Regions from separate parts of the Homo sapiens genome. Here region 1 is linked to region 2. A link means that fine-mapping ties the variant in region 2 to the expression of a gene that starts in the linked region. Tissue or cell type: whole blood. Region 2 holds a variant in brackets; the other region holds the start of a gene. All regions are shown on one strand. Distances are from middle to middle.

What was found. PIP is the estimated chance that this variant, and not a neighbour inherited with it, causes the effect.
Region 1: it holds the start of TMEM129, and the variant in region 2 is fine-mapped to the expression of TMEM129 in whole blood (TOPMed, PIP 0.99).

The regions. Positions count from the first base shown.
Region 1 is chr4:1,720,248-1,722,999 of GRCh38, forward strand. It overlaps TMEM129 (transmembrane protein 129, E3 ubiquitin ligase), which reads right to left and starts at 1,076. Exons shown (of 4, transcript NM_001127266.2): 1 at 386-1,076. The coding sequence starts at 590. It overlaps TACC3 (transforming acidic coiled-coil containing protein 3), which reads left to right and starts at 1,274. Exons shown (of 16, transcript NM_006342.3): 1 at 1,274-1,396. RefSeq lists enhancers at 1-26, 1,109-2,104 and silencers at 617-666, 677-1,486.
Region 2 is chr4:1,687,514-1,690,265 of GRCh38, forward strand. No RefSeq gene overlaps it. Among named protein-coding and RNA genes, the nearest start is that of FAM53A, 4.6 kb to the left of the region's middle. The variant C/T (reference allele first, on the strand shown) is at 1,485.

The sequences.
Region 1 (2,752 bases), 33 kb after region 2:
GTGCCACCCTCCACACAGCCCCTCCGACCCCTTCCGTTGGACTCAATCAACAGTTGCCTTCTCCTGGCCACTGCCCCCAACCACGACAAGCAAGGGCTGCTTGGCCTTGCAACCCCCAGGCACGTGACGGTTCAGGACTTGGTGGGCCGGAGCATCCCTTGCCCAAGGTTCTGAACTTGGGTTCCCGTCACCTGCAAGTCAGTGCCGGCGGCGCCCCTAAGCGCGCTCAGCCCACGCCGCGGTCCCTCTGGATGAGGACCGGCGCCTCTCCCCAGCTGCGCCCAGGCGCTTTCGGGGCCTCGGGGAGCTGGCGGAGGCCTCCTCCTGACCTCCCAGCAAGCCCTGCGCAGGAGAGGATGCGGCCGGCCGGCCCGAGCAGCCTCACCGAGCGGCAGCAGCGAGTGGCACAACAGCGTGGCGGCCGTGCGGCGCAAGTGGAAGGGCACGAAGGCGGCGTCCTCGCTGCCCAGCCAGCCCGACAGCAGGTTCTGCACCGTGAGCCCCGCCGCGTGGAACTCGTTGGGCGTGAACACGAAGCACACGGCGAACACCAGATAGGCGAGAGTGAAGGTCACCTCGGGGCTGTCCATCGCGCAGCCGCCGGGAAGCTGTCGAGCTAGGCCCCCGCCCCGGCGCGCGGACGAGGCCGCAGCGCCCAGTCCCGGACCTGTCGGTTGCGGCGGCCGCCGCCCGGCCGCCCGCGGGGCACTCTAGGACATGGAGTCCCGCCGCCCGGCCGCCCGCGGGGCACTCTAGGACATGGAGTCCCGCCGCCCGGCCGCCCGCGGGGCACTCTAGGACATGGAGTCCCGCCGCCCGGCCGCCCGCGGGGCACTCTAGGGCATGGAGTCCCGCCGCTCGGCCGCTCGCGGGGCGCTCTGGGAGATGCAGTCCCCGTGCGGGTGCGGCCTCTCTTCTCGGCCGGCCCTGGAGGCGGCACCGCACCTGTGCATTGAGCACAGGTGGGGAAACTTAGGCCTGAGCGAGGCCCTGGCCATGAAGCCCCGCCCAGTAGCGTCAGTTGCGGAACTCGAAATTCATGGGGCGACTGCGAGCCCGGGGTCTCAGCTTCAGACACCCTGGCGTGCCCTCCACTCCGGAAACGGAACCGTCGGCGCCCGAGCGGGGGGTGGGGGGGGAGGGAGGGCGGAGCCGGCGAGGCACAGCTTCCCATTGGACGCCCGCCCTCCTGCGGTCCTGCCCCCGGCCGCGCGCTGATTGGCCGCGCGAAGGCAACCGTCGGCGTTTGAAACTCCGGCGCGCCGGCGGCCATCAAGGGCTAGAAGCGCGACGGCGGTAGCAGCTAGGCTTGGCCCCCGGCGTGGAGCAGACGCGGACCCCTCCTTCCTGGCGGCGGCGGCGCGGGCTCAGAGCCCGGCAACGGGCGGGCGGGCAGGTAGGAGAGCGGCTACACGGCGCGGGGAGGCTGGGGTCCTGGGGGCGCGAGGCCGTCCCGCCCCGCCCCGCCCTCGGCCCTCGCCCTCCCGCCCCGGCCGCCGCTTTCCCCGGGAAGCGTCCCCCACGGCTCCTCCTGGGGCCGCCGCCAGAACCTGTACCGCGCCCTGTCATGGGACCCGGCCCTAGACCGACCGCCGGGCTGGGCCCCCTGGATGGTGGCCAGGGGCGGCTAGAGCTGGGCCAAGACCGACGGCGGAGCGGGCGCCCCGAGGTGCTTTGCTCTCCTCGACCCTCTCCTGTCTCTCGGTCGCCCACCTTGGCTCTTTGTTGGCTCCCAGCACGCGGACCCTCCTGTTGTTCTTTGGTCCCTTCCGGCCTCCGTCCTGGGGCCAACTCCATCTAGGCCGCCTGCGGCGGACACCTGGGCCCCTACCGCTTCCCCGCACCTGCTGCGCCGCTCCACCTTCCCCCCGCACCGCATCCCTCTTGTGCACCAGAGTAGCACCAAAGCACCAGCCTGGGGCCGGTCCCTTCTCTGCCCAGAGCCCCTCCCGGGCCTCCATAGTCAGTAAAGGCCCCTCCTGACTAAGGCTGGGTCTGCTGCTCTCCCGAGCTCCTCCAGGCCGCCAGAAGGCTTCCTCCGAGTCACTTTCTCCCTGAGTTCGAGGCTTGCGGGTCCCCCAGCGATCCAGCACCCCTTCCCCTGCCCTGTACCCAGTTATTCAGGGCGAAAACCTAAGCGTCGTCCGTAAGTCCCATATGTGCCAGTGGCCAGGCCCGGGTCTGGTCTGGCATCTACTCCTTGGGCTCCAGAAGCCTGTGGTTTCCCTGCTTCCCTTCTGCTCTTAACCTCCCCACCCACACACAGCACCACAGTGGGCTTCTCAAGCTGCAGCACCGACCTGCCGGGGCTGCCCCCTCTCTCTTCTCCAGGACCCTCCCCAACTTTGCTCTTCTTCAAATCAAAGCCTCCCCAGGTCCCCCTCCACCACCAGGTGCCTGTGGGGTTCCTGCCCTGGTCGACACTCGGTTCTCTCTGGCAGCCTTTTTCCCTACGTCATTCCCTAGACTGGGAACGCTGTAGACAGAAAGGGTGGCAAGTGTGTGGGTGACCGGCGTGAGGACCTGGGCAGCCCTGGAACCTGGGACTGACTGGAGGCTCTGATGTGGAAGTTCCTTGGCACCTGTTGCTCAGCTCTGGGCTTCCCTTGTTTGCGCATCGTCTCCCAGCTCCTCCTCTGGGCCTTCACCCTCTCAGCCTGGTCTTGTCCCGCTGCCTAGCCCGGTGGGAGAGAGCAGACCAGAGCCGCTGTCCTGCTTTTCTGCCCTCTACTGCCCGGTCCTGCCTCACGTC
Region 2 (2,752 bases):
CAGAGCAAGATTCCATCTCAAAAAAAAAAAAAAAAAACTAACAAAAGGATCAGGAATTAACAAAAAGGATCTGGAAGCCATCTTGGCAAAGATTTCACAAAAGTGGTTATGTGTGCAGAGGCTTTATGTTATTTTCTATACTCTTCTGTATACCTCATGTATCTTTCACAATTTAAAAAAATTAAAGGCAAGGTGGCTCACACCTATTTCCTTATAGTTTTTTTAATCTACTTGTTCTATCAATTACTGAGGGAGCAGTGTTGAAATCTCCGAATGTAATTGTGGATTTGTCTTTTTTTTTTTTTTTTTTTTTTTGATACAGAGTCTCGCTCTGTCGCCCAGGCTGGAGTACAGTGGTGCGATCTCAGCTCACTGCAAGCTCCGCCTCCCGGGTTCACGCCATTCTCCTGCCTCAGCCTCTGGAGTAGCTGGGACGACAGGCGCTCGCCACCACACCTGGCTAATTTTTGTATTTTTTTAGTAGAGACGGGGTTTCACCGTGTTAGCCAGGATGGTCTCGATCTCCTGACCTCGTGATCCGCCCGCCTTGGCCTCCCAAAGTGCTGGGATTACAGGTGTGAGCCACCGCGTCCGGACCTTTTCATTCTTTTAACGGTATTTGGCAGAACCAAAGTTTTTATTTATTTATTTTTTGAGACAGGGTCTCACTCTGTCACCCAGGATGGGATGCACTGGTGTGATCGTAGTTCACTGCAGCCTCAAACTCCTGAGCTTAAGGGATCCTCCCACCTCAGCCTCCGGAGTAGCTGGGACTACAGGTCTGTGCCACCATGCCCAGCTAATTTTTATTTATTTATTTATTTATTTTTGAGACGGACTTTCACTCTTGTTGCCCAGGCTGGAGTAGAATGGCGCGATCTCGGCTCACCACAACCTCCACCTCCCAGGTTCAAGCGATTCTCCTGCCTCATCCTCTTGAGTAGCTAGGATTACAGGCATGCACCACCACACCCGGCTAATTTTGCATACAGACGGGGTTTCTCCATGTTGGTCAGGCTGGTCTCAAACTCCTGACCTCAGGTGATCCGCCCGCCTCAGCCTCCCAAAGTCCTAGGATTACAGGCATGAGCCACTGTGCCCAACCAGGCTAATTTTATTTTTATTTTTTTAGACGGAGTTTCGGTCTTCTTGTCCCGGCTGGAGTGCAATGGCACGATCTTGGCTCACTGCAACCTCCAACTCCCGGGTTCAAGCAATTCTCCTGCCTCAGCCTTCCCAGTAGCTGGGATTACAAGCATGCGCCACCATGCCTAGCTAATTTTGTATTTTCAGTAGAGACGGGGTTTCTTCATGTTGGTCAAACTGGTCTCAAACTCCCAACCTCAGGTGATCTGCCCACCTTGGCCTCCCAAAGTGCTGGGATTACAGGCGTGAGCCACCGCACCTGGTCCAGCTAATTTTTAAAAATTTTTTTGTAGAGATGGGATCTTGCCATGTTGCCAGGGCTGATCTCAAACTCATGG[C/T]CTCAAGCCATCCTCCTACCTCAGCCTCCCAAAGTGCTGGGATTACAGGCATGAGCCACCATGCCTAGCCACAAGTTTTTAATTTTGATGAAGCCCAATTTGTCCATTTTTCCTGTTATGGATTGTGATTCTGCTGTCCAGTCTATAAACTCTGCCTAGCCCTAGATGCCAACAATTTTCTGCAAGTTTTATATTTTACACTTTACATTTAAGCCTGTGATCCATTTTGAGTTAATTTTTCTATAAGATGTGAGACTTAGGTTGAGGCTTGCATTTTTGCTCTTGGATTTTGCTCCAGCCAATCTAGCACATTTGTTGAAAATACCATCCTTCTCCACTGAATTTTTTTTTTTTTTTTTTTTTTTTTTTGAGACAGAGTCTCACTCATCACCCAGGCTGGAGTGCGGTGGCGCGATCTCAGCTCACTGCAAGCTCCACCTCCCGGGTTCACGCCATTCTCCTGCCTCAGCCTCCTGAGTAGCTGGGACTACAGGCACCCGCCACCATGCCCAGCTAATTTGTTGTATTTTTAGTAGAGACGGGGTTTCACTGTGTTAGCCATGATGGTCTCGATCTCCTGACCCCGTGATCTGCCTGTGTTGGCCTCCAAAAGTGCTGGGATTACAGGCGTGAGCCACCACGCCCGGCCTCTCCACTGAATTTCTTTTGCACCTTTGCAAAAGTCAGTTTGCCAGACTTTTGTGGGTCTATTTCTGGGTTCTGTGTCCTGCTCCACTGATCTGTCTATCCCTCCACCGACACCACAGTCCTGATGTCATATAACCCTTGAAAAAGATAAGCTCATTCTATTCACCTTGTTCTTTTTCAAAACTTTCAACTATTCTAGTTCCTTTACATTCGCATAAATTTTAGAACCATCATCTACAAAAAATATTGCTGAGATTTTGATAGGAATTCCATTGTAACTACATACATCCATTTAGAAGAACTGACAATTTTTTTTTTTTTTTTGAGACGGAGTCTCGCTTTGTCACGCAGACTTGAGTGTACTGGTGCAATCTCGGCACACTGCAACCTCCGCCTCCCAGGTTCAAGCGATTCTCCTGCCTCCGCTTCCTGAGTAGCTGGGACTACAGGCGCACACCACCATGCTCAGCTAATTTTTTGTATTTTTAGTAGAGACAGGGTTTCATCATCTTGGCCAGGCTGGTCTTGAACTCCTGACCTCAGGTGATCCACCTGTCTTGGCCTCCCAAAGTGCTGGGATTACAATGTAAGCCACTGCACCTGGCAAAAATTGTTTTTTT